7 linked regions of the Homo sapiens genome follow. The protein of the gene in region 2 purifies or fractionates together with the protein of the main gene of each other region. This does not show direct contact. Each region holds a gene or a part of one and is shown on either strand. Other genes may lie near its edges. The genes, in order: PARK7, ENO1, CAT, RIPK2, IVNS1ABP, L1TD1 and TPI1.

Region 1 (4,081 bases), 900 kb from region 2:
GAAAAATGTAACGGGGGGAGAATTTTAGTATCCCCCCCAAAAAATCCTAGAAATCAAATTAATTTCAAACTTCCTGAAATTACAAAACGGAAATTGTTTTAACAATACTTTAGGACTTTTTATTTATTTATTTATTTTTCTTTTCTTTTTTTTTTTTTTTTGAGACAGAGTCTTGCTCTGTCACCCAGGTTAGAGTGCAGTGATCTCAGCTCACTGCAACTTCCGTCTCCCGGATTCAAGCGATTCTCCTGCCTCAGCCTCCCAAGCAACTGGGATTACAGGTACCCACCACTGTGCCCGGCTAATCTGTGTATTTTTAGTAAAGATGGGGTTTCACCCTCTTGACCAGGCTGGTCTCAAACTCCTGACCTCGTGATACACCCATCTCGGCCTCCCAAAGTGCTGGGATTACAGGCGTGAACCACTGTGGCCGGCCAACAATACTTTAGTACTTTAAAAAGTGGTTAAAAAAAATCTAGTCATTAAACAAATTACAAAATAAAAATGTATTATGTATTTAGTGCAACCTATAAAATTTTTTTAGAGAGAAGCCCTCACCTCTGTCACCCAGGCTAGAGTGCAGTGATGCAATCGTGGCTCACTACAGCCTTGAACTCCTGGGCTCAAGCAACTCTCCCACTTCAGCCTCTGCAGGAGCTAGGACTACAGGCATGCACCACCACAGCCAGCTAATTTTTTTTATTTTTGTAGAGACAGGGTCTCGCTTCATTGCCCAGGCTAGTCTCAAAACTCCTGGGCTCAGGTAATCCTCCTGCCTCAGCCTCACAAAGTGCTAGGATTTCAGGTGTGAACCACTATGGCTGGCTTAGAATCACTTTTAAGACCATAAACATCCTACCGTTGATTCAAAACCAAGCAAAGCTCAAAACTCAAAAGAAAATGTGTAAAGTATAGAATTTATTTTACTCCTTTTAGAATCTGCACTGAAAAATAAAAACACACAAAAGGTAACCACTTCCTTAAAAAACTACAGTAAATGGAACTACCATATGGTCCAGCAATCCCACTACTTGGCATGTATCCAATGGAAAGGAAATCAGTATACTGAAGAGACACCTGCACTCCCTTGTTTACTACACCAACAGTCACACTAGCCAACATACGAAATCAACCTAGGTCCAACAACAGATGAATGCATAAAGAAAATGTGGCATTTATACACAATGGGATACTATCCAGCCATAAAAAAGAATGAAATCTTGTCATTTGTGGCTACAAGAATGGAACTAGAGAACATTATATTAAGTGAAAGAAGCCAGGAATAGCAAATTAAACACTCCATGTTCTCACTCATATGTGAAAGCTAAAAAAAAATTGATCACATAGAAGCATAATGTAGGACAGAGGATACTAGAGGCTGGGGAGGATAGGAGAAAGTGGGGATAGGGAGAGATTTGTTAAAAGATACAAAATTATAGCTAGATAGGAGGAATAGGTTCTGGTGTTCTATACCCCCGTAGAATGACTATAGTTAACAATCATATATAGTTTCAAATAGCAAGGAGGATATTGAACGTTCCCAACACAAAGAAATGTTTGAGATGATGGATATGCTAATTACTCTGATCCGATCACTATATATTATGCATGGAAACATCACAAATCCCATGAATATGTACACTTATTATCTGTCGATTGAAAATAAAGGTAACCACTGTTTTAAAATGCCCAGACATCATATGACAAAAACACAAACAGAGATGAAAAAAAGTATTATTATTATTTTTGAGACAGGGTCTCGCTCTGTCACCCAGGCTGAAGGGCAATGGCACAATCACAGTTCACTGCTGTCTCAAATTCCTGGGCTCAAGCAACCGTCTAGGCTCAAGTGATCCTCTTGCCTCAGCCTCTTAAGTAGCTAGAACTACAGGCATGCACCACCACACCTGGCTTTTACAAATTTTTAATTTAAAGAGAAACGGTCTCGCTATGTTGCCCAGGCTGGTCTCAAACTCCTGGTCCCAAGTGATCCTCCCACTTTGGCCTCCAAAAGTGCTGGGATTACAGGTGAGCCACTGCACTTGGCCTGGAATACTTACTTCTGCTTGTCATTTTTAATTTGTTTCAACAAATCACATGTAAATACCAACAGTCTAATTTTCTACAATCCAGTAATGAAAAATCTAAACTTATTAGAAAGGATTAAACTTTTTCCTATGTATCTGAGGACAGCTCGGCCCAGGGAACCGCACTCCAGGTTCCTCAGCAGTGTGCAACCAGCCATCTGTGAGCCGACTCTGCCTCCTTTCCTGCCATGACCCTGCTGTCAGAGGGTACAGTCCACACTCCTGTCACGCTGACCGCACGACGGAGTGTGCAAAAGCGCCTGTGGGGGAGCATGTTTCTGAGGAAAGGGATGCTAGCTTCCAAAAGTGTCCATCGTCCTTAAAGGTAAGAGCCATAATTCCAACGATACTGAAAAAACAACACAACTACAGTGGAACTCTGAAAGTATCTTTAGAAAAAATAATGGCCGGGCATGGCACATGCCTGTAGTCCGAGCTACGTGGGGGGTTGAGGTGGGAGGATTGCTTGAACCTGGGAGGTTGAGGCTGCAGTGAGCTGTGACTGCACCACTGGACTCCAGCCTAGGGGAGAGAGTGGGACCATTCCTCTAAACAAAAATAATAATAATAAAAAATGGAAAATGTGGCAGTTGATTTATGTCAGGTAAAAATGTGTAATAGGAGGCAAGGATGCCTGTGTAAGCCAGAAAAATACTGATGGGAAAACAATGCAGCCATCCATCTAAGCACCAACCCACCCATCTGGCCACACATCCAACCGGCCACCTACCCATCCAGCCACCCACTTACTAAGCACATTCTGTATCAAGCAATTGCCACATTCTACAGATACAGAATAGAAAGACAAAGTCCTCACCCTCTTAATCTGTCAGGGGAAGACATTCAAGCAAAATAATTTTCTAAAATGAGTCTGTGCTAACAACACTCTTAAGACATTTCAAGAAACAAAGAAGCCATATGAAGGAATAACTCCATGTATGGATTACAAACCTCTTTTTTTGCATCTTCAAGGCTGGCATCAGGACAAATGACCACATCACGGCTACACTGTACTGGGTCTTTTCCAGCCAGGCCTGCAACGGTGACCTTAATCTACGAGAAAGATGTTATCATATTTAAGAACACTGAAACATAAATTCAGAGTAACACTGTCTTTAAAAAAAAAGAAAAAAGAGAGATGGGGTCTCACCCTGTCACCTGGGCTAGAGGGCAGTGACACAATCATAGCTTACTGCAGCCTCCAGCTCCTGGGCTCAAATGATCCTCCTGCTTCAGCCTCCCAAGTAGCTGGGATTACAGACATGAGCCACCACACCCAGCTAGAGTAACGTTTACACAGCTGCCCTGTGTTTGAAAGTAACATGACAGGAAATACTGCACCACAACTATACCAAATTTAAGCTAATACACTGGCTAAATATATTTAATAACTAGGTCTACCCTGGTTTGCCCGGGACAGACCCTACTTATAGCTGCTGCCCTGTACTCTGTGGGACTGGAACACCCTTTCTCCCACAAATGTTCTGGTTTGGGTGACCAGTTATATGATCATCCTATTAATAACTCATCTTGCAAGTTTACTGTTGCCATTTAAACCTCATGGTATTTTTGTAAAATAGAAATGCAAGTCCAAACAACGAAATACTGCTTTATCTTTCAAAAATTTTTAAAGTCAACAATACCAAGAGCTGGCACTGGGAAAGTGGGAATTTTCCTACACTGCTGGTGGGACTACAAACTGGGACACTGGAGAGCAACTTGGCAAAACCTAGTCATGCTGACTACAGGCTATCCTTCGGCCTAGTCATTCTACTTTTAGATATATAACCTGGAAAAATTTCCTCACATTTGCACAAAGAAACCTACACAAGAATACGTATTACAGAATTGTAATGCTGTAATTAGAGGAATGGGTAGATTGTGGCATTCAGTGCAACACCAAGCAGCAATTTTAAGTGGATAAACTTAATCGACATGTATCTTCATTTCTGAGAACCAGAGGAGTATAGGGTTAACAGACTCTGGGGCCAGGC
Region 2 (4,081 bases):
AATGGAATGCTGATTTTTGGCTGGGTGCAGTGGCTAACGCCTGTAATTCCAACACTTTAGGAGGACTTTAGGAGGCTGAGGTGGGCAGATCCCTTGAGGCCAGGAGTTTGAGACCAGCCTGGGCAACATGGCAAAGCCCATCTCTATAAAAAAAAAATATAAAAATTAGCCAGGCATGATGGTGCATGCCTATAGTCCCAGCTGAGTTTGGAGGATCATTTGAGCCCACGAGGTGGAGGTTGCAGTGAGCTGAGATCGTGACACTGCATTCCTGCCTTGGCAACAGAATGAGACTCTGTCTTAAAAAATAAAAATTAAAAAATTAAAAAGTAATACTGATTTTTATTGGATTACTTTGAGCCAGTTCTCAGTACGTCAGTTTTGTTACTTTATAGTCTCATCAAAAATTCATTTTGATCCATCATTAGACGCTTTGCTAAATGATTTCGGACTACCTGCAGAAATCATGCCTCCCATCAGAGGATGAAGATTTGCCATCTTTGCAGTTAGCCAAGAGTGAGCAGCAGAGCCTGCCTTTCAAGGGCTCAGCCTGCTTGAGTGAACAGTGAGCTTTGCTTATTTATTGCCTATGAAAGCCATGTTCCTGGGTAGCAGTGGTCTACATAGCACATACCTGACAGTTCTCTTGGGTGTAAAGTCACTTTGGGCTCCCTGGGTAGACTATTAACCTTTTGTTACAAAAGCATTGTCTGAGAGTGCCATCTCTGTTGCATTGTTGGGTGAATGCCTGATAACCATCAAAGCAAGCAGAAGGCAGTTTTTTGTCTCCCCACTGATTTTTGTCCTCCACTTTTTTTGCTTATAAAACAAACATCACAGAATTGATTTTGATATTACACAGTTCCAAAGTCAGATTCCATGGTAGGGGAGCAAAGGCTATGCAGATAAGAGTGGCCCCAACCCCTCATTCTCCCCTCTCCCTCGTAGAAACTGAACGTCACAGAACAAGAGAAGATTGACAAACTGATGATCGAGATGGATGGAACAGAAAATAAATGTGAGTGGCCTGAGGTGGCGTCTTTACTGGGGAAGATCATGAAGTCTCCTGAAGATTTTAAAACCTTTCAGGAAGAGGCCCATGATCTTAGTGATGAGCTACATGAGCCTGTGGTCTCTTCCCATTTCTTTGCTTTACTCTTAAGAAATCACACTTTTGGCCAGGTGCGGTGGCTCACGCCTGTAATCCCAACACTTTAGGAGGCTGAGGCAGGTGGATCACGAGGTCAGGAGATCGAGACCATCCTGGCCAACGTGGTGAAACCCCGTCTCCACTAAAAAATACAAAAAATTAGCCAGGCCTGGTGGTGGGCGCCTGTAGTCCCAGCAGGAGAATGGTCCCGGGCGGAGCTTGCAGTAAGCCAAGATCCTGCCGCTGCACTGCAGCCTGGGCAATAGAGTGAGACTCTGTCTCAAAAAAAAAGAAAAAAAAAAATTTTTTTTGAATATCAGGTGCAAAACCAGGTGACAATAGCCTGTCAGTTTGGTTACTCAGAAGAGCTTTGCTCCTTATAATGAATTCAGCAATTCCTACTGTTGGCTGGAGTTGGGCTCTGTCTTAGAGGGGAAAAGCAGTGGTGAGTCCACATAGAATGCTATTTGTATTTCTAGTAACAGTGAAATGGAGGTGTGATGGGGGAGGAGATGGTGCAGAATACAACCCTCAGGGCAGTACAGCAGGAGAAAAGCTGGTGAATCAGAAATGACTTCATTCCACTCGGTTCTCTTCTGTTCTAGCTAAGTTTGGTGCGAACGCCATTCTGGGGGTGTCCCTTGCCGTCTGCAAAGCTGGTGCCGTTGAGAAGGGGGTCCCCCTGTACCGCCACATCGCTGACTTGGCTGGCAACTCTGAAGTCATCCTGCCAGTCCCGGTGAGTGGTTTATTGGAACTTCCCAAGCAAGGAGTTGGGGGTTTCAGCTTGCTGTTGGGGACCCGAGACCTCCTATGCCTTGATATCCTAACACATGTGACTCTCCCAGCACAGCTCTGCCCCTTGTTAAGTGTGACCTTGAGCAGGTAACTCAACTTGCCTGTGCCCCAGGTCCTTTATCTGCAATGGAGGCTCGGGGAGGAAATGACAGCAGTACTTTCCTTGCTAGGCTGTGAGCATTACCTGACATAGTCACAAGTGTTTCTCCTGGTGATGATGAATTTGCAGTTATCAAAATAGACCTGGCGTGAACTGGTTGCAGTAGCGCACACCTGTAGTCCCAGCTAATCAAGAGGCTGAGGCAGGAGGATCACTTAAACCCAAGAGTTTGAGACCAGCCTCTAGGCAAGACCAGTATAGTGAAACCCTGTCTCTAAAAACATGAGTCAGAGACCTGGTGAGCATTTCACAGCACCCTGGCCCCTCTGGTGCTCCTCAAGAAGCAAGTCTTGGGCTCATCTGTGAGCTAGATTGGGATGGTAGGACCAGAGGGGCTTACTGCCCTGTGGGGCTCTCTGGACCCAGTGCCATGCTTCTCTGCTCTGCTCTCCCCAGGCGTTCAATGTCATCAATGGCGGTTCTCATGCTGGCAACAAGCTGGCCATGCAGGAGTTCATGATCCTCCCAGTCGGTGCAGCAAACTTCAGGGAAGCCATGCGCATTGGAGCAGAGGTTTACCACAACCTGAAGAATGTCATCAAGGAGAAATATGGGAAAGATGCCACCAATGTGGGGGATGAAGGCGGGTTTGCTCCCAACATCCTGGAGAATAAAGAAGGTAAAGGCGCTAGGGAACCGCCCCCCCACCCAGCCCTGCAGCGCCAGCTCCCTCTGTTGGGGGGTCGTCCACACCTGCCACTGTGGAAATCTATTCTTTCCACCTGTAGTTTGTAAAGATCAAGACCCTTCAAACGGTTTTAAGGAGGAAAAGGGGAGCTTCATTTTATTTTACTTATTTTTTTCTTTTTTTTTTTTTTTTTGAGATGGAGTCTCTGTCGCCCAGGCTGGAGTGCAGTGGCGCAATCTCGGCTCACTACAACTTCCGCCTCCTGGGCTCAAGTGATACCTACTAGTTTGGGGAGCCAAGTGTCTGTCCGTCTGTCCTGCTGGCAGGGCAGCTTAGCCATGGACAGCAGACCCTGAGCCTGAGCTCTCAACGGCACAGCCTGGCGGGAGGATCCTGCCATCCCGGGCTGCCTCCACTGGGCTTTCTCTTGGACCCCGCTTCTGCTCTATTTAAGGCCTGTGCCTTGGGACAGCTGATCTCAGCTGCTTACTGTAACTGTATCTTGGCCAGGACAGCTGTTCCTGGGCACTAAATTTGGGAGCATTTGTCAGTGAGAAGGGCTGCTTTCTTGGAAAGAGAGCTGAATTTCCCATTTTGTATGCACCAAGAACTCTGACCCATGGTTTCTTGCCCCAAAGCAGAAAAAAAGTAACTGATGTCAGAACTACTGGTTGGGGCCTGAACACCTGTTGATCTTTGTGTTACAGTCCCTGTGTAGCAGCTGTTGAAGGGAAGTTTTCTCTGTACCTACCTGTTTTCCAAACCTGTTGTCACCATCTCTTCCCAGGCCTGGAGCTGCTGAAGACTGCTATTGGGAAAGCTGGCTACACTGATAAGGTGGTCATCGGCATGGACGTAGCGGCCTCCGAGTTCTTCAGGTCTGGGAAGTATGACCTGGACTTCAAGTCTCCCGATGACCCCAGCAGGTACATCTCGCCTGACCAGCTGGCTGACCTGTACAAGTCCTTCATCAAGGACTACCCAGGTGAGTGTTCCCCGAGTGCCATCTCCCTTTCCTGCCACTGACCTGCAGCAGGGCAGCTGGAGCATCTGGCTGGCTGGTGATGGCTGCAAGGAGGGGATGGGGAGGGAGTGTCTGAACTTCCAGCTCCCGTAGGGGATTCACCACTGGGTTTGCCCCCAGTTGTGCATACACAGGGCTTCACAGAGGTTCTTGTGTAGCTAAGGAGCTCGGGTGCCAGCAGCGACATTGCATAATAAGTTGTTCACAGTCAGGAGCAGAGGCAGTCTGTGCTCCATTAGACAGGTGAGGGAACCAAGCCTTCAGAATCAGAACAGCCACTTGGTACTGAGATGTATCATGCTTCCTGTGAGCTGGGAATAT
Region 3 (4,081 bases), on a different chromosome or scaffold from region 2:
GATTTTGTGTCACCCTGTGTTTATCAGGCAACCTTACCCCACCTATGGGTGGAGACCAACAAAGGTTGGGAAATGGGCACAGTGAGGCCATACCCTGACACCAGCTTGAATCTAGGCCTTCCCCAAGGCCCTGTGCCTGAACTCCCTTGCTGGACCTGCGTGAGTGGGAAAGCCTTTCCCACCCAAGCAACCGGCCCAACTTCTCCAACTCTTGGCAAAATGCAGAGAATGAGAGCAAGAAAGGCTGCACCTGTGTCCTCAGGTACTCAGGGGACAGGACAGTCTCTCTATGACTTGTATTATATTATTTGTCCATTTCACCATGGTGTGGCTCACCACTTTGGATAAAGTTATAAAACTTAATAACATGACCTTGTTAAAAGGCACCTGTAAACACTGCCCATTAATATATCAACCGCCACTGCCTAGGCTACAATACTCATGAGCTCTCAGCAGGAATAACCCCAAAGCCCCCCTAACTGGCTTTCCACTTCCTGTCCAACAAGACAATCTACATATTCCCTACTCACCTACTCAAAAAATCTCAAATCATTCCTTAATGGTCACCAAATGGCTAAATGAGTACAACAGTCCTTCCCCAACTGTATGGCTCCTCACAGGCTCCATGGTATTGGAACTGATAGCTAAATGACCTAAGAAGGATGGGGGAAAGCTAGGCTAGAAACAATAACTCGACAAACTTATGAAAGCTCTTTCGAACAGTTTCTAAAACTCATTTAAAAAAAAAACAACCTATAAAGAGTACACTGAATTTAAAATAGATATATTTGCCAGAACTAAAATTAATACTAACAGAAATTATATTACTTTCTACTTGTCATCCTTTTTCAGAACTCTCTTCCCCACTGTTTGAATAGCTGCCTTAGACATTTGCTTTCTTAGGAATGTAGAGAATACGTATTTGCTTTGCAGTCCTTTTCCCGGGGGCCTAGTTCTCCATTCAAATCTTCATTGTTCTTCAAATTATATGACTCAGTGCTGCTGACTGCCTCACGGTCCCACTGTGGTTCCAGAGACCCATGGTGACTTGGATTCTTGTGAAAAGAGTTTAGGTAACCTTGTATTCCTCAATCCGTTCCCTCCCTGGGTAACCAGGGTTATGCAGCCTCTGCTCTGCCCATGACAATTTCATGCCTTGGCAAATCCCATTAGCCTCATCCTCTCACAGTTCAGCCACCAGGTAGGGAGTTTTAGGGCCCAGGATTACCTTGTTTTGGCTTCCTCTACTCCCTGGTTTCAATGCAAACTTCTGCTTTTCCTCTGAGAACTGCCTGACTTTCCTTTTGCTATTCCCAATCCCTAGTTGTCGCTTTTTCTATTTATCACCAAGAGGAGTGATTCTACTCAATATATCCCAGACCACACTTCTCAAAACTGAAGAAAGCTTTTCACTCCTACTCAAGCATTTAAGGTCCCCTCTGACATATACTCAATGAACCTACCCAAACTCTATTCTTCTCATTCAGGAGAGAGTGACTGTTTATAGTTTCAACACACCTAACATGTCCCACCTTTGTGCCTATACTCATGTCCTTCTCCTGCCGCATTTTACCTACTAAAAATCAAAATCCTATCTATTCTTCAAAACAATCTCAAATGCTACCTCGTTCATGAAACTTCGTGGCTGACCTCCTATCAGACAAAATTTTGCTTTCTGGATCACCATGGCATTCTGCCTTACATTATGGCACCCAAGACAGTCCACCATACACAACAGACAGGTACTCAATTTGTAACAGTTGAATTGGACTAAAAACTAATGAAAAACTTACTTTCTATAAAAGCCTCAGATGTTCCCCAATGTCATAAGCAAAAAAGTTATTTTTTAAAAACGGAATCTTAGCTTGTCCTCCATGCAGACTGAAACCTGAACTGGAATCAGATACTTACATAAGAAGTAACCTTCAGTCGCTGTGGTCTGATTTAGGGTACAATCTTTAACCTTTGTTTCAAGGTCACAGTCTAAAACCACAAAAGATTGATTTATACAGTAATTATTAAGCCAATTATTTTCTTACTGATTCTGATCCAAAGTACAATTTTTCACTCTTGGTACTCTTGAAAGAGATATTAAAAAGTGATGTAAAACATACTGATGGCTTAACATTAGCAAGGTGAATGGTTAATCCACTGCTTTTATCACTGGCAGCATACATGTAGTTCATAAAGATCATCCCTAGATCTCTTTTTACAAATGGAAAAATTCAAGCATCACCATGAAACAGAAAATGAGGCCAGCCACGGTGGCTCACGCCTATAATCCAGCACTTTGGGAGGCGGAGGCAGGCAGATCACTTGAGGTCAGGAGTTTGAGACCAGCCTGGCCAACAGGGTGAAACCCCGTCTCTACTAAAAATACAAAAATTAGCTGGGCATGGTGGCGGGCGCCTGTAGCTAATCAAGAGGCTGAGGCAGGAGGATCGCTTGAACCTGGGAGGCGGAGGTTGCAGTGAGCCGAGATCATGCCACTGCACTCCAGCCTGGGCGACAGAGCAAGACTCTGTCACAAAAAAAAAAAAAAAAAAAAAAAAAAGAACAAGAAAATAAAGTTAGGCTTACCAAGGTATTATAATTAATTAACCATACTTCAGCTACAGACAGAACAAACCATGCTTCACTCTATCAATACTTAAGGTATTTCTATTATGTCTTTTTTTTTTAATTAAGAGAGTAAGTATTCTTGTCTTCACATATGTAGGGATCTTACCATGGACTTTTGTTTATACTTGGTTTACTCAAGGAATGCTCATTGAAGAATAGTTCACCTCAGTGAATCCCACAAGGTAACCAAGCACCCAGATTAAAGTTTAAGTAATGTTCTTGTTAATTCCTCACATAAAGATCATGCCAAGCTGCATATTTTGTGTGTGCATGCTCACATGGACACCTGCCTCAGAACATCTCAATCCACCAGGCTCACCTGAAGCATTTTGTCAGGACTGGCCTCAATGCCAGGTGGCATGTTGCTTGGGTCGAAGGCTATCTGTTCAACCTCAGCAAAGTAATTAACTGGATTCCGGTTTAAGACCAGTTTACCAACTGGGATGAGAGGGTAGTCCTTGTGAGGCCAAACCTGAAAATGATGTCATATTCACAATTACCAGGCAATCAACTGAAGGAAATCAAAGCTACCCACAAAAATACCAGATTTCAAATACAATCAAGCCAATGAAAATAATTTTTAAATCCAATAAAACATAAGAATTTAAGATGAGTGCCTTAGTTAAATCTTTCACAATAGTAAGTGGTAAATACTGACAGTTTCCCCAGGAAAAAGTACATCAGCTTTTCATAATCTGTTCCCTGTTAATAACAATATATGAAGCCACATACACATACTCAATGAAATGACAAACAGGAACGTGGAAGTAAGATGCTGGTAAGCACTCATTCACAGCTTAGGACACTCTGAAGTGGTACCCTCTGTATTTTGTATATGACTTCCCCATTATTATAATTGTTTGACTAGATTTTTTTTCTAATTAGGTAAGAAGAGACTTAAAAAAGAAAACAATATAGTTGTTTACTGACTCACCTTGGTGAGATCGAATGGATTAAATGGAAAAGTTTCTGCCTGATTAAATGTCATGACCTGGATGTAAAAAGTCCAGGAGGGGTACTTTCCTGTGGCAATGGCGTTAAAAAGATCCCGGATGCCATAGTCAGGATCTTCCTGGGAAAGTCTCGCCGCATCTTCAACAGAAAGGTTTTTGATGCCCTGGTCAGTCTACAAAATGAAAGAAAGAAGCTCCAATGGAAACTTATTGTCAAAGTTATCAAAATTTCATCAGTAATTCATTGAAGGATTATGAGTAACACTGCCCAAAGAATGAACTTTCTTTACAACAATACTTCTATTGTTCAAATCTGATACTAATGAATTTATCAACAAGAAATTCTACTTGATTATCCCAATACTTTTAAATGTCAAGGGAATCCCATCTACACATTTCATATTTAAAATCAGTCCTATCTTTCCCTTTATGTATTCTATTATTTGAATTTTTACACTCATGTTACTTTCCAAATCAGAAAAATCAAAATATACTTAAAAGTAGGC
Region 4 (4,081 bases), on a different chromosome or scaffold from region 2:
CATCAGTCTTCTGTTTACATCTCTCTATTAAAACTCCATTTGTTTGGATTACCGGTGATGACAATGTTGGAAAATCCTGCTTATCTCATTTGGCCTCCTGGCAGATTAAACATGTCCGACTATACCCCTCCTTGACTTCCAAGACACAAGGACTACACTCTCTACTGTCTTCTCTTCCTTAATCCTTTTTCTTCTTCCTCTTCTCAATTTCTAAGTGCTGGAATGCCTCAGAGCTTTACTATGGGTCCTCTCTTTGCTATGTATATTCCCTTCTTAGATGAACCAGTCCAGACTATCAATATGTTAGTGATGTTCAATTTTATATTAGGATCCTGGACTCTTCCTGGAACAACAGATTCATGTATTGTTGTAGTAGTAGCAGCAGTAATTATGACCGTTTCTACTTGCTGGCTATTATAAACAATGCTGCTATCACTAATCACATACAACTGTGTGAACATATGTTTTCATTTCTCTTGGTTTACCTGTTAGTGGATTGCTTGGTTGTATGGTAAATTTATCTTTCATTTTTAAGAAACTGCCAAACCGTTTTCCAAAGTGGCAGCATCATTTTATATTCCCACCAACAATGTATACGGATTTTGGTTCTGCCACATCACTGTCAACACTTGTTATTTTCTGTCTTTAATTATAGCTATTTTGTGGGTATGAAGTGGTAACTCATTGCAGTTTTAATTTGCATTTCCAAATGACTAATAATATTAAGCATCATTTTATGTGCTTTTTAGCTATTTGTATATCTCCCTTGGTGAAATTCAAATCTTTTACTCATTTAAAAATAGGGCTATATGTCCTATTATTGACTTGTCAGGGTTTTTTATATATTCTAGAATCAAGCCCTTTAGCAGATACATGTTATGCAAATATTTTCTCCCAGTCTGTGGCTCTGCTTTTTTTTTTCCTTCTTGGAAATGAGGTCTTGCTATGTTGCCCAGGTTGGAGTGCAGTAGCTATTCATAGGCACGATCACAGTGCACTATTACACATCCTCAAACTCCTGGGCTCAAGTGATCCTCCTGCCTCAGCCTCCTAAGTACCTGGGACTAAAGTCGTGGACACTAAATGCCTGGCTTTCTCTTTTCTCAATAGTACCTTTCGAAGTGGAAAAGTTTCCAATGTTTGCAAAGTCTGATTATAAATTTTTTAATGAATCCTATTTATTTTTGATGTCATATTTAAAGATTCTGCCTAACCCTAGGTCATGAAGATTTTCTCCTACATTTACATTTGGATGTCTGATCCATTCTACCTCTGAAATACTATCTTAATTCTGTAACTCTTCTGTCTTCAGAATTTCCACCTTAATTAGAATATTCCTGAAAGTGTCTTTTCTAGCCTCTTTGCTTCCACTTTTGTCTTTCTCCAATCAACTTTCCACACAGCAGTAAGAATTTCACCTAAACTTCTATCAGATCATGTCACTTCCCTGCAAAAGATACTTTAATGGCTTTCCATTGCACTTGGAATAAAAATCTAACCTTTTTATGATGGCCAATAGCCTCTCTCTTAACTCTCCAATATCATCTAATTCCTTTCCTTGCTCACTGTATTCCAGCCACACAGGCCTTCTCACTGTTTCTTGAGAATATAAAACTTTTTCCTCTTCTAGGCTCAGAGCCTTTATGCTTGCTGTTTTGTTTGGCTGAATACTCTTTCTTCAGCATTTGAATGACTGGCTCTTTTTCAAGCTTCAAATGTCAGCTCAAATGTTTGCCCCTAAAAAAAGGCCTTTGTTTCCCTCCCTTAATTAGTCTATTACCTTGCTTATTTCCTTATAAGACTGTCACAATTTGTGTATCTTGCTTATTTATTTGTTTTCACTCTGCCTTCTCAACTAGAATGTGAACTAGCTACAGAAAGTTTGTCTTGTTTACTACTCTGTTCCCAGGGCTCACTCCAGTATATACATAGCACATGGTAGGGGTTTAAGACATATTTGTTAAATATATGAAAGAAATTGTTACTCCTATCACACGATTTCTCTTTTTTGTTAGGAATTCTCAATTCTGCTCTAGAAGGAGTTACTCATATATAAATGCTATGATAAGACAGAAAATAATTTAAACAACTTCTAGCTAGTCATCTAATTTGCACAATTTTTCAAGGAATATTTTATTCACAGTATATTAACTAATTCTGTAATTCAAAGAGTCTAGGTTAAAACTATATACTCACTTAAGAAAGATGGTCTTTCATCTGGATTTTGTGCCCATCCACTTTCTATTAGAGAGATCATACGTGCTCGGTGAGGTATATCATATGGCAAACTTTCTTCATTAATAACAGGTCGATGTCCTTGTGACACACTATACATTATCTGCAAAGGATTGGTGACATCTGTCAAAACAAATAGATTGCATTCATTAGTAATATATTATGATTAAGCATATTACTTACATCTAAAACTAACTAAAAGAAAATAAGTGAATATTGAAATTTTAGGAATGATGCCTTACCCCCCTTTCTGTAAAAGGAATATATATACCCCAAACCATTGCCAGACTTGTCTGATTCCTATGGAATGAGTTTATATCCTCACCTCATTAATTTTGGGCTTGACCATGTGATTGGATTTGGTCAACAGAGTATTTGTAAAGCAGAGCTGAGCGAAACCTTGCAGAACTAAGAAGGGCTACAGCAACCAATATTTAATGTGAATGAGAAATAAATGTTTATTTCATAAGCTACGGAGATTCCGAGGTTGTTTTTTGTTACACAACAAGCTGACCTACACAAACCTCAAAATAAAGAAATAAACAATATTTTCAGGGAATAAAAAGGACAGATTAGTCTTCGATATTTGCTAGTCTTTATAGAGGGGGTAGTAATTAAATTATCATATAAATAATTTTACAGCTAGACTAGAACTTGGAAATAGTAATTTAAAATTCTTATTATGCAGGCGACAAAAATGAGGACGCAAGAGATTTGTGACTTGATCACAGAGCTAATTACTGTCAGAACAAGAATTAAAATCTGGGTTTTTCTGATCCTTAATCCAGTACATTTTCCAGTATATAGTAGACTCACAACTGGATCCTTAACCCGGTATATTTTGCAGTATGTGATGCATTCACAACTGATAAATGGTTGTTTTAGTGTGTTTTCCACAAAATGAATAAGCAGATTTAAAATAACATGATTTTTAGATAGTTCTGAGAGTGACCTACTAACATGATGTTATTGAGCATAAAAAAGTCAAACCATACTTACCTTCAAAAGGCTGTTTTCTGGATAACACTTCCCATGTGATAACTGCATAGCTGTTTAACATAAGAACATACATGTTACATATTTTAAATGAACTCTGCATAATAAACTAAAATAGCACTATTTTTAAAAGCTGACTGAAGATACCATTTTTCAAAGTGATAAGGCAGCAAAGAATTACTGTATACAATGAAGATGATAAATGCTCATGTAGTTTGGAAACAAAATCAACTTTAAGTTAAAAAATTAGGAAATTACTGTAATACAAGCTTAACGTTACATGCAAGATTAACTTTTTGTGGATGATTTAATTCTTGGACACCCAGATAAGCTATGCCCTTTAATTAAATGATATTATTTTTCACAAAGAACAAAGAACAAGAAAAAAATTGTCTCATGGAGCTCTATTCTACTGCCTTTTTTCTGCTCTCAGCACTATCTTCTTTGGTAGTAGAAATATCTTGCCTACAGTTTAACTTCAGATGTCAATTACAGGGTTAAGCTGCATAGAGTTTATAATTAGAATAAATGGTTAAATAGGATATAAGAATTTTGCCACACCCCAACATTAACCATGCATTCAAAATGGACACATAGAATTTATTACTACTAACACCTTGTGTTACAGGGAGAGCGAGGAGTACAGAGGGAATTCCTACCCAAATGAAGGAATAATATTTCCTCATTTTTCCCTGACAGAGAATATTGAAATTGAACATAAAGGGAAAATTCACAAAATGAATGACTGGCAGATTTATTGGCCCATTTTTATAGAATCAAACCAGCTTTAAGAATTGTTGGGTAGAACATGATCTCTACCTTAGGAAGCTATAAATACATTTCTCCTCCC
Region 5 (2,759 bases), about 180 Mb from region 2:
CTGTTTATAAACTCTACTTGTTCAAAGTGTCATTAATATTCTTGAGAAACTGGCAGTTTTATTATGAAGGATATCTGCAATTCATAGCAATTACTCCTTTTTAACCTAGAGACACTGATTTAACTTAATAAAACCTGTTTATAGGATGAAACTTGTAGCTCAGTCTTACCAAGGATTTAAGGATTCATATATGAGTGTTTTTCTTTCTCCTTTACACCTAGTTAATTAACCTTGTATCTTATGTCTCACTTGCTGACTCTTCAGACCTTTTTTTTTTGGAACAAAAAGCAGCTGCGTGTAAATTACGACAGCAACTGAATTTTCCATGAATCATATTCACTTTTCTGAAGGCAACTCTGCATGCAGTTACAGAAATGTCCTACTGGGGCTCCTCCTTTGCCTACTTCAATTTTAAGAATTCTGAGGTCAGGAGAGGTAATAGGGCACACACCTAATTTGTTAATTAAGCAAGGATTCTAATGATATATCACATACTCAAATCCTGGATTTTCCCTAAAATATGATTATTATATTGGGAATTTGAAAACATGTTGAGCAGTGGTAAAGTACATGACACACTAGAAGCCAAAAATCAGAACCCTACATTTAAAGTTCATAATAAAAGATCCACCCGAGTATAACCAATAATATTTGGTTTAGATATTTTATAGCTTTTCTACCTTTTTAGGAAATTTAGAGTGTTTTATTAAGTTGACCAGAAGTGTGGTATTATCAATATTATTTTGAAACTATTCAAAAATTCCTACTGGTTAAAAAGCTTTTTTTTTTTTTTAAATTGTGCTGAGGCTATGCCATTTTCTCCCTCTCTGAAGAAAGTATGTACCTTTTAGATACAGATTAACAGTAACAAATGGCCACTGAGCACTGCTTTTTTTCCTTTATGGAAACTTCTCATGTTCATGCAGACTAGCTACAACAGCTTCTTAAAAAAAGATACTTTTTGGCCACCAAACTACCTCTTTGGCATCCAAGGTAATGCAGGAAAACTTTGACCCAAAGTATTCCCATATATTATTTGCATTAAGCATGTCACTTATGAAATGAGAAGTGATCTCAAGGATTTTAGTGCTGAATCCTCAACTAAAATTTTATTTCCTTGTGCTGAATAGAACACATACAGATCCATATTAAAAACAGTCATCATATTAGGCAAATTCAATCTGTCAATGTAGTTTTAGTCCAGAACCAAACCAGTGATAGTTAGGAATTACAGAGTTACCAACCAAACTGATTTGCTTTCCTGGTGGTTCTTTGTGTAACAGATGAGAGAAATAAAGTGGCAGAGTACCAGTGAACATTTGGAGAAAATACCTAATTATTTTCTTCCTAACCCAAGTTAGCCACTGAATAGTCATCTCAGAATAGTCACCTCATCCCAGTTGGCCCATTAGGTTCCTGTGTGCTTCATCTTCTGTGAGAAAAAAAAACCTTATATCATTCCTTATTTCAGATGTAAGATGCCAGGTGAGTTATTTTCCACAAATTTCTTAAGCTCATTACTGGAAAAAAAAATTTCTCAAAACTTTTAGTAATGAATGAGTGTACAAGCAGCAATTGGATATTAATCCCATGGTGCAAGGATTTCCTGCAAAGTACCTTTAATGTGTTTAAATCAGCAGCAAGCATTAGGACATGCTATTTTGGCCCCATAAGTTAGGTGTGTAGCACTACACATTAGACACCAAGTCATCCCAACCAATATTTATCCATATGAACAGATAAACTGAACAAAAACATAGTTCTGATAAAACCTGCATTCACAACCTAATGTAGTTTAAAGTAAATTTTTTCACAATTGAGGGCTGCTATTTAGGACTGTTTTGTTAATAATAAAAACAGGAATTATATAGAAGATAAAACACCATTTTTTACTGCTATATAATGTCTTGCTATATAAAACATACCCTCAACAAGTCAAAATATTTAAAACCAGTGTTTCAAATACCAAAAATCACAGCTATGTTACTGTTCAGTAACTCCACTCAAATAAATGTTAGTACTGCATTCTTGAAGGAAAAAAACTGCAGCCAAGGCAAGAACTCTGAAGTTTGCACTCAGAGTTTAAAAGACAGACCCCTACTCTGCAAACTGAAGACTGCCACTCTGCTTCAATAACTCCAGCCTGCCACATTTTACTTCAATTGGTAAAGCACTCTGCTGAGAATATAAAAAGTTATAAAAAGGCAATCATAAAAGATTAAATATTGGTAGGCATGTAAGCTTCCTTTTAATAAAAACAAAAATAGTCAATGTCATCTATTTAAATAAGTATCCTTTGTTATAGAGTGTTCCAGTTATTGAAAAAGGGCCCTTAAAAAACCCAACTGTCTACATCTTTAAACCCTACCCCTTTTACCCCATAGTACACATTTGAGGGAAGAGTCATTTAATGTGCAAATTGGCAAAACAAATGTGGAGGAGAGGGGACTTCTTGAAATGATGTGCCCAATCAATTCTTGGTTTATTCTTTTCCAAAAAGTAAAATAACCAAAGTCTTAAAAGTACACAAAACAGACCTTCATCTTTGCATTCCTTTCCAAATAAACCCAAAAAGTATGTACAGCATGTTTAATAGTATGCAATATGCAAAAGCTTTGTGTTGCTGTTAGCAACATCTATACCCACCCACCCTCTTTATTCACAAGTGTACCTCTACTAACCATAATTACATCACTAAGCCTGTTAGTTTGAGAGGGTCTTAAATTTGTTAAAACTGGAAAATCTTTGTATAGGGGCTC
Region 6 (4,081 bases), about 53 Mb from region 2:
ATATATTCCAAATTTTTTATTATCTAAAAAAGTTTTTTAGAGATGGTTTTGCTATGTTGCACAGGCTGGTCTCAAATTCCTGGCCTCAAGTGCTCCTGCTGCCCCGAAAGGTGCTGGGATTACAGGCTTGAGCCACCGCACCCAGCCCAGCACTTTGGGAGGCCGAGGTGGGCGGATCACCTGAGGTCTGGAGCTGGAGACCAGCCTGGCCAACATGGTGAAGCCCCATCCCTAAAAATACAAAAATTAGCTGGGTGCAGTGGTGCACGCTTGTAGTCCCAGCTACTCGGGAGGCTGAGGCAGGAGAATCACTTGAACCTGGGAAGCGGGGGTTGCAGTGAGCTGAGATTGTGCCACCTGCACTTCAGCCTGGGCGACAGTGAGACTCTGTCTCAAAAACAGAAGAAAACAAAACAAAACAAAACAAAACCCTGTAAATTACTTGAATGCCCACTGCTGAGGGAATTACTTATTGAACCAAAATATGTTCAAAATATGGCATGTCACACATAGAAGAGTGAGGTGTGCATATATAACTGGAAGATTACAAATGGCCTATTGAAAAAAAGAAAATAGTGTTAAAAGTATAAAGCTATTAAAAAAAAGTAAATGTCCCCATACCCAAGGAGAGAGACGTACTAACTAGAAGTCGAAGTTGGCATTCTCCTTTATTGTCCTCCCATGCACCCATAAAAACCAGGCACTTTATCTTGGTATGGTAGCATGCCTGTAATACCAGCTCCTCAGGAGACTGAGGTGAGAGGATCACTTGGTCCCTGGAGTTTGTGACCAGCGAACAGTGATCACACCACTGCTTGCCACGCTGGGCGAGAGTGAGATCTCAAAAAAAAAAGCAAAAACACAAAAGTCACCTGTACGTTGTGAGAGATACCACACCAAACTTTGGGTGGCCTCAGAGGTCAGATAATAGAGACTGAGGTGAGGGACTAGTAATTGTTCTTATTTAAAAAAAAAAAAAAGAAGAAAAGAGAAGTCCATAATCCCCCCAGCAAATTCAGAAAAACACACACACCGACCCCCCGCCGCCGCCCCACCCCGCCGATAAGAACAGGCTGCCAGTGTTGAAAAGGTAATACACCACAAAGGAAATGCAAGCAGATAAACATATGAAAAGATGGCAGTCACAAGCCAAGGCAATGCAAATCAACAAGCTTTTTTCCATCCCTAAAATTAAAGGAAGTTTATCCGCCCTCCCAACCCCCAGTCCCTTGAGGGAAGTGCTAAACATTTCTTGCCCTTTCCAACCGGTGCTCTCCTGTATTGTATACTTTTAAAGTAACCTCCTTAAAATACAAAGCAGAACTTGGGAGTACACTGGTGAAAATCTCCGGTCTCCCTAATCACTTTTTTTTTTTTGGCAGGGTCTTGCTCTGTCACCCAGGCTGGAATGCAGTGATGCAATCATAGCTTAGAGTAACCTTGAACTCCTGGGCTCAAATAATCTGACCGCCTCAGCCTCCCAAGTAGCTGGGACTGCAGGCAGAAGCCAGGACGTCTGGTCCCTGAGCCCTTTTGATGGCTACCATCCAACCCTGAGACAAAATTTGCTAAACTTGTACCAGCCTCTGCTTTCTTCTTGATCAGGGATTTTGAACCCAGAGTGCCTGGGTAGTGTCTGGCTAGAATTCAGAGTATCTGATATCTTGGATGTGAAAAAGGTCACATATATTTATTGTCATTAAACGCTAATCATAATTTAGCATTTAGCATTTGAGGCTGGGAGCAGTGGCTCATGTTTGTAATCTCAGCACTTTGGGAGGCTGAGGCAGGTGGATCACCTGAGGTCAGGAGTTTGAAACCAGCCTGGCCAACATGGTGAAACCCCGTCTCTACTAAAAATACAAAAATTAGCCGGGCATGGTGGCGTGTGCCTGTTGTCCCAGCAACTCAGGAGGCTGAGGCGGGAGAATCGCTTGAACCCAGGAGGCAGAGTTTGCAGTGAGCCAAGATTGTGCCACTGCACTCCAGCCTAATCCACAGAGTGAGACTCTTGTATCAAAAAAAAAAAAAAATCAGCATTTGATACAGTTAACAACAAATAATAAATCCCACCGTGCCCGGCTGTAATTTTCAGTTTTAAGCCAGGCATGGTGGTGCGTGCTTGTATTCCCAGCTACTCAGGAGGCTGAGACAGGAGTTTGAGTGTAGCCTCGGCAACATCGCAAGACCCTGTCTCTTTTAAAAAAAATAACTTAATTTCGAGTTTCTCATTGCACCTGTCATGTACTATAGAGTGACTCTTGGAAAACACATTACCCAAAAAAGGTAGTGTTAGATAATAGGGCACTGGCCAGATTAATTACTGAAAAGGTCAAAAAATCCCCAGGGTCACTATGAATGTGGCCAGGGTGGATATTTGCCCCTGCACTGGCTGTAATCAGGGTGTTCAAACACTGGAATGTGTTTTGATTTGCATTCTCCTGACTAATATAATCTTTTTGTGTTTACTGTACATATGGTTTTTGTATATGTGTTTACAAAATTGGATTGTACTCTATATTTTCTGCACCATTTTTTCCCTCTAGTATACCAAAGACATCCTTAACCAATGGGTATGATTCTAATATACTCTTATTATGTATGGTATAATTTTTATATGTACGTTGAACATATTGTATGCACCATATAGAGTATATATATCATAACATGGTGTATATATATATAACAATGTATATTATGGTTATGATTATTTGAGACGGAGTTTCACTCTTGTTGCCCAGGTTGGAGTGCAATGGCGTGGTCTCAGCTCACTGCAACCTCCGCCTCCCGCATTCAAGCAATTGTCTTGCCTCAACCTCCCGAGTAGCTGGTGGAGCCCGCCACCACGCCTGGCTAATTTTTGTATTTTTAGTAGAGACGGGGTTTCACCATGTTGGCCAGGCTGGTCTTGAACACCTGACCTCAGATGATCCGCCTGCCTTGGCCTTCCAAAGTGCAGGAATTACAGGCGTGAGCCACTGTGCCTGGCCATAATGTATATTATAATGTATATTTTATAAATTAATGTATTTATGTACTTATATATAGTTATATCTATTCTATATAATCCCATCGTGTGCATAAATCATCATTTGTTCCACCCTTCTCTTATTAAAGGACATTGTTTTCTAGTATTTTTTGGCCAGAAAAAACTCAGTACTAAAATTTCTATTCATGTATTCCTAAGTGTACAGGTGGTTTCATTCCTAATGGTAGATTCTCAAGGGGAGAGTATATGTATTATTTCTGACTTTAATAATAGGCTTTTCGTTTCCTGAAATGTTTAATAACTATTCCTACTTCTGATGGGTAAAAGTGGTCTCATTGTTTTTTTATTATGTACTCAACTCCTGGGATTGGGCCACCTTTCACATGTTTACTATTGATTTACATTGTCTTTCCTAAAAATATTTTATTTAGTTTTAGTTTATTTGTTTTATTTTATTTTTATTTTTACTTTTTTTTTGAGATGGAGTCTTGCTCGCTCTGTTGCCCAGGCTGTAGTGCAGTGGCGTTAACCCTAATTCAACCTCTGTCTACCGAGGTCAAGTGATTCTCCTGTCTCAGCCTCTGGAATAGCTGGGATTACAGGTGCCCGCCATCATGCCCAGCTAATTTTTGTATTTTTAGTAGAGACAGGGTTTCACCATGTTGGCCAGGCTGGTCTGGAACTGCTGACCTCAGGTGATCTGCCCTCCTCAACTTCCCAAAGTGCTGGGATTACAGGCATAAGCCACTGCAACCGGCCTCAAGTACATTTATTGTAGCGTTTATTGGACACAATAAAGGCACAATTGTTATCAGAAAAATTTGTCCTTATGTGCCTGTAGAAGTTTACCCTTGTTTTCAGCTTTCTGTGTCATCTTGGCAAGTCAAGTAGAAGTCTATTTCACCAGGGAGAGCTCAGTGGTTTTCCTTAAGGATTTTCAGTTTAAAAAAAAATATTAGAAGCATTATCAGGCTAGACCCGGTGCCACTGCACTCCAACCTCGGCGAGTGAGACCCTGCTTAAAAAAAAAAAAAAAAAAAAATTAGCATATTCAAACATCAATAAAAGTAAGAACTCATCACCTAGATTCAA
Region 7 (4,772 bases), on a different chromosome or scaffold from region 2:
GGTGACGTTTAGTTCCAACCATTATAGTAAGTGGAGAAGGGATTGGCCTGGTCCCAACCATTACAGGGTGAAGATATAAACAGTAAAGGAAGATACAGTTTGGATGAGGCCACAGGAAGGAGCAGATGACACCATCAGAAGCATATGCAGGGAAAGGGCAGTTACTGGGCTTCTGGGCTGCTTAGTCCCTGGCTTGGCAGGAAGGGTAGGGAAGATGGATGGGGCTCATTGTTTGGCATTGATGATGTCCACGAATTCGGGCTTGAGGGAAGCACCACCCACAAGGAAGCCATCCACATCAGGCTGGCTGGCCAGCTCCTTGCAGGTTGCCCCAGTCACAGAGCCTGGGAAGGGAGCAGAACAAGGGCTTGGTCAAGAATGGGATGAGTCTGCCCCATCCCCACCTCCATGTCCGAGGGCTCAGTCTAGTCCTCAGCCCACTCCACCTCAGCCGGGAACCAAAGCCACTCACCTCCATAAATGATACGGGTGCTCTGAGCCACCGCATCAGAGACGTTGGACTTCAGCCATCCTCGGAGCTTCTCGTGTACTTCCTGGGCCTAGAACAAGAAGCTGGCCTAAGTAAGACCTTTTCTGCCTCTCTAAGAGGAAAAATCACTGGCACCAGTGGACACTTAGTGTGGTTTCTGACTGAGTCAGAGTACCAGGGCTCTGATCCAAGCCAGGCCCTGGACTGGATGCCCTTGGACAAGTCACTGTCTCTGGGTTCAAGGTCTCTGTGTCTTTGAAATAAGGGGTTGCCCCATGTGGGCTGTGTCTGTCCAAACCTATTGAGGCAGGCTGGGATGAGGGCAGGGCTCCTGGGCCCGGTTACCTGTTGGGGTGTTGCAGTCTTGCCAGTACCAATGGCCCACACAGGCTCATAGGCCAGGACGACCTTGCTCCAGTCCTTCACGTTATCTGCAGGGCAGAGATACAGATGGAGGGAAGGGTGAACAAGAAAGAGCTCTCCAGCCAGGTTCTCCGGAGTACGAAGAACGGTGGCCTACTGCCCCCTAGTGGACATTGGGGGATTTCCAGGTGGCATCTACCTTGGGGCTGGAGAAGTCATAGGCCCCAAGCAAAGATTGTCACTCCCCCTCCCCTTTTTCCTTTTCTGGATCAGCATGGGGACCAAGACAGGCTCCAGGGCCTGACCCTACCCTCTGAGTCTCTGTGGCCCTGGATAGGCTCAAAGGTCCCTTTCTCCAGAGATACCTGCGATGACCTTTGTCTGCTCGAAAACAACCTTCTCAGTGATGCCAGCTTCCCTTTCATCTAGCTTCTCCCCAATGCAGGCGATTACTCCGAGTCCCTCTGCCAGAGCATGGGCCACTTTCTGCCCAATCAGCTGTTGAGAAACAGACTTGGTGAGACATCCTTCTTGGAAAAAGACATCCCTTATCTTCTCTCTTGGCTACTAACCTCATCTGACTCCCCAAAGACATGCCTTCTCTCTGAGTGCCCCAGGACCACCCACGTGGCTCCGCAGTCTTTGATCATGCCAGGGCTAAAGGAAGAGATGAAGCCAAGGTTCAGCAGGGAGCCCACCCTGTGGCTTTCCCCTCAACGAGGAAAGTGAGGGAAGGGTCCCACACACCCCTCTCCACCTCGATCTCACCTGATCTCCCCAGTAAAAGCCCCATTAGTCACTTTGTAGCAGTTCTGCGCAGCCACAGCAATCTTGGGATCTAGCTTCTGCCGGGCGAAGTCGATATAGGCAGTAGGGGGAGCACAAACCACCTCTGAGGACAAGATGGTACCACAGGGGGATGAGACTAAAGAAAGCCTTCATTCCCCACAATTCCTAACCAGTGCCCTGGAGCCCCCCAGCCCTCACCCTCTTCTTCTTGGTTCTGCTCTCCCCCTTTTCACCCCAGCAAGATGACCTTTGTCCATTTTCCAGCCCAGGCTGGGTCTGCACTCAACTCGAAGAGCCTTCCAGATACCCCTGAGAGGCCACGGCCCTCACCCTGCCCTCTGCTCTTTTAACAGCTGGGGCTCCAATTTCCTCGAGCTATTCTCGGCATAGGCACCTCACAGACTCAGCATTCTCCAGGGAGCAACCCTGCTTCCCTTCTAAAATAGCCCATCCTCACCTCCCCTTTGCAAGGCAAGGATTTGTAGCAAAAGGAGAGGGGCCAACTCCTGGGGTTTGTATTGAGGCCTCTGGGGAATGAACGAGAAGGGGATGCCTCTTTGGATCAGGCCCGCGGCTCTCCGATTTCGGTGGAGGGAGGAAGGAGGATGGAGGAGAGCATCCTTTGCCCGTGGGTGGCAGAGACCTAACTGACTCAGAGGCCTTGCGCTTTGCTGTTTCCAGGTTGGGGAAAGCGGTAGGATGGCTCCTCACTCCCAAATCGCTCAGCCTGTTTGGCACGGGCTCGGTCCCTTCCGTGGAAGGCGGGAGTCGTTCAGGTTGCCGAAGGGAAGGGGTCAGATCTGGGGCTCAGGGAGCCCGAGCAGCTCGGCGCGGGGACGCGGACGCCGGCGAGGAAGGGGAGGAGTCTGGGGCTACGTGCGGCGGCGCACGGCGCGGGAGGCCAGGGCGCAGGGAGCGGGAAGCCCACGCGGCCCAGCCTCCCCCGGTCTCCCGCAGAGCCTCGGGCTCCGCTCCTAACCCCGTCGCCTGGCGGGCACAGCCCCAGTGCGCGCCCCGGGGCCACCTTCCTCCAGGAGACCCAAAACGTCCTTACCTGCCCCATAGTCCAAGGGGCATCATGTGCTCCGCCCTGCCCCCTCGACGCACCGACGGGGCTGCGGCTGCGAGGCCCCTGCCCGGACCCCAGCGGCCCTCGTCCCACAGCCCTGCATCAGGTCCGCGCGGATACCGGCCTCGGGGCCTCGGGGCCTCGGGAGAGGGCGCTGCCACTCCTGCCCCGGCCCCGGCCCCGGCCCGGCCAGACCCCTCCTCGGCGAGGGCTTACCGGTGTCGGCCGGCACCTTGGCCGCGTTCAGAGTGCCGATGAGCTCCCCCAGACTCTGCTTCCGCCCGTTCATCTTCCAGTTTCCCCCAACGAAGAACTTCCTGGAGGGCGCCATGGCGCTGGAGCCGAGGCGCTGAAGGTCAGTGTCTGCGCGCAGTCGCGGCCACTGCCCACTTATATAGAGCGCCGCGAAGTGGAACTCCGCCTCCTCGCCGTCCTCCGCCATGGCCCGCCCAGTCCCCCGGAGCCCTGCCCCCCGCCCGCCCTCCTGCCGCCGCCCCGGCCGCCGCCCGATGATGCACTGTTCCGACGTTCCCCCTTCTTGTGGCAACGTTCTAGGAGAGTCGGGGGCTCGGTCGCCTCCGCCTCGATTGCGGGGCTTTCGGGACAAGGCGAGACCTGTGAGCTCCGGCGCTCAGGGGAACCCTCGCTTGGCGACTTGAGTCCCCCACGGGGCCAGAAGTGGTTTTCAAGCGGAACTAGCTGGTGGCAACTTGGCCGTAGCCCAGATCGCCCACTGGGGCAGAGAGGGCCCCTCTCCAACTGTGGGATAGACAACCTCCTTCGCCCATCGGAGCAGCTCATGCCCGACTGCTGAGCAGGCACCCTTGTACCCAGGGAGTCTACCTGAGTGAAAACTTGCGGGACAAATGCAGGGTTCACAGCGGGAGGGGCAGCCCACACAGGCATAGGCCGCCAGGATCATCCCAACCCTCGCCCCGGCTGGCAAGGCCTGGCAGGAACTGCAGGGACTGAGTCCCAGCCTGAAGCCAGCTAGCCAGTTAGGGACATTTGGGAAATCCTCCACTCCTGTGTGAATAAAGAGAGGGAAGGGTTCTTCACTCCATCTTTCCTTGGCTTTGTGTCGGCATTTAGTCACTCTACTCCACCTCCCCACCCAACCCCAATTTTCCTAGAGCTCTAGAACCAGTGAAAAGTGGAGACTTGACTTTGGCAGGGAGGCGGCCAGAGTTAGGAGTTTTCTTAAGCGCCCTCCTGCTAACCCCAGGAAGGTAAGCCTCTCCCCCAAGGTATCAAACAGGACACAATTTAGCCGTTGTACTTTTATTCACATCGTGTATTTTGGCATTTTCCAGAGAAGGACAAGGAAGAGACAGGGTGGGGGAAAGACTGAGGCAGGAGGGCAAGTCGGGGGGTCCCTATTTCCCTCACATCCCTCCTTGACCAACCACACAGGGGCAAACAAAGGGGGAGGGGAGGCACAGGTGATCGCTCCACTGGGAGAGGATGCACAAAGCTACACCCACGCGCACAAACGAGACCCCTCCCTCCACACCAGGGGGCTGGGCGGGGCGACACAGAGAAGCAGAGCACTGTGGATTCCGGGGGCAGGGGAAGCAACAAAGTCTCCTTACAGACAGGTGGCCGGCCCCTCCCGTCCCCGTCCTGCTCCATCCCCAGAGTCTATCGCTGCCCCTCTGCTCTGCCCAGCCATTCTCCCACGGCCTCCAGCTTCTTCCCTGCTGCCGGGGACAAAAGGAAAAAGGGTACAGAGCAGAGGGGCTGAAGTCCATCCCTCAGCCCCTCTCCCTCATGCCAGGTGGTCTTCCCCTGCCCTCATTGGTAAGGGGTGAGGCAGGCTCTTAGCTGGCCACTCTCTGGTAGAAGTAGATGTAGCCCAGGTCCTTGGGCGGCTTCTCGGAGGCACACACTTTCTGGTCATTGTAGATCACCCATCTGGGGAAGTGGGGAAAACAGAAAAGGATGAACAAACTGGGCATTCAAAGTGGCATCATGTAGTCTCTCAGACATGGCCCCTGGAAGTGCTCTCCACACTCTCTGCCCATACCCCAAATCCACAGCCCAGCCACCATGTGCCTTAAG

The links.
Region 1: the proteins of ENO1 (region 2) and PARK7 fractionate together in Homo sapiens (co-fractionation; 3 studies listed by BioGRID). This does not show direct contact.
Region 3: the proteins of ENO1 (region 2) and CAT fractionate together in Homo sapiens (co-fractionation; one large-scale study listed by BioGRID). This does not show direct contact.
Region 4: the proteins of ENO1 (region 2) and RIPK2 purify together in Homo sapiens (tandem affinity purification; one large-scale study listed by IntAct). This does not show direct contact.
Region 5: the proteins of ENO1 (region 2) and IVNS1ABP purify together in Homo sapiens (affinity purification with western blotting; 2 studies listed by BioGRID, with this or other methods). This does not show direct contact.
Region 6: the proteins of ENO1 (region 2) and L1TD1 purify together in Homo sapiens (co-immunoprecipitation; one large-scale study listed by IntAct). This does not show direct contact.
Region 7: the proteins of ENO1 (region 2) and TPI1 fractionate together in Homo sapiens (co-fractionation; 4 studies listed by BioGRID, with this or other methods). This does not show direct contact.

The regions. Positions count from the first base shown.
Region 1 is NC_000001.11:7,964,383-7,968,463, reverse strand, and holds part of PARK7 (Parkinson disease protein 7), read right to left. Parts: intron 3,141-4,081; coding exon 3,039-3,140; intron 1-3,038. UniProt on the Homo sapiens protein: Multifunctional protein with controversial molecular function which plays an important role in cell protection against oxidative stress and cell death acting as oxidative stress sensor and redox-sensitive chaperone and protease.
Region 2 is NC_000001.11:8,864,925-8,869,005, reverse strand, and holds part of ENO1 (alpha-enolase), read left to right. Parts: intron 1-948; coding exon 949-1,018; intron 1,019-1,755; coding exon 1,756-1,889; intron 1,890-2,415; exon of another isoform or gene 2,416-2,504; coding exon 2,505-2,727; intron 2,728-3,523; coding exon 3,524-3,721; intron 3,722-4,081. UniProt on the Homo sapiens protein: Glycolytic enzyme the catalyzes the conversion of 2-phosphoglycerate to phosphoenolpyruvate. In addition to glycolysis, involved in various processes such as growth control, hypoxia tolerance and allergic responses.
Region 3 is NC_000011.10:34,455,678-34,459,758, reverse strand, and holds part of CAT (catalase), read right to left. Parts: intron 3,749-4,081; coding exon 3,557-3,748; intron 3,095-3,556; coding exon 2,942-3,094; intron 1-2,941. UniProt on the Homo sapiens protein: Catalyzes the degradation of hydrogen peroxide (H(2)O(2)) generated by peroxisomal oxidases to water and oxygen, thereby protecting cells from the toxic effects of hydrogen peroxide.
Region 4 is NC_000008.11:89,770,944-89,775,024, reverse strand, and holds part of RIPK2 (receptor-interacting serine/threonine-protein kinase 2), read right to left. Parts: intron 3,285-4,081; coding exon 3,235-3,284; intron 2,359-3,234; coding exon 2,197-2,358; intron 1-2,196.
Region 5 is NC_000001.11:185,295,307-185,298,065, forward strand, and holds the end of IVNS1ABP (influenza virus NS1A-binding protein), read right to left. Parts: coding exon 2,729-2,759; 3' UTR 1,082-2,728; downstream 1-1,081. UniProt on the Homo sapiens protein: Involved in many cell functions, including pre-mRNA splicing, the aryl hydrocarbon receptor (AHR) pathway, F-actin organization and protein ubiquitination.
Region 6 is NC_000001.11:62,197,481-62,201,561, forward strand, and holds part of L1TD1 (LINE-1 type transposase domain-containing protein 1), read left to right. Parts: intron 1-4,081.
Region 7 is NC_000012.12:6,865,837-6,870,608, reverse strand, and holds the start of TPI1 (triosephosphate isomerase), read right to left. Parts: upstream 3,043-4,772; coding exon 2,928-3,042; intron 2,505-2,927; exon of another isoform or gene 2,100-2,504; intron 1,746-2,099; coding exon 1,622-1,745; intron 1,511-1,621; coding exon 1,426-1,510; intron 1,352-1,425; coding exon 1,219-1,351; intron 922-1,218; coding exon 836-921; intron 561-835; coding exon 473-560; intron 345-472; coding exon 226-344; 3' UTR 1-225. Other genes in the region: USP5 (ubiquitin carboxyl-terminal hydrolase 5), read right to left, coding at 4,532-4,625. UniProt on the Homo sapiens protein: Triosephosphate isomerase is an extremely efficient metabolic enzyme that catalyzes the interconversion between dihydroxyacetone phosphate (DHAP) and D-glyceraldehyde-3-phosphate (G3P) in glycolysis and gluconeogenesis.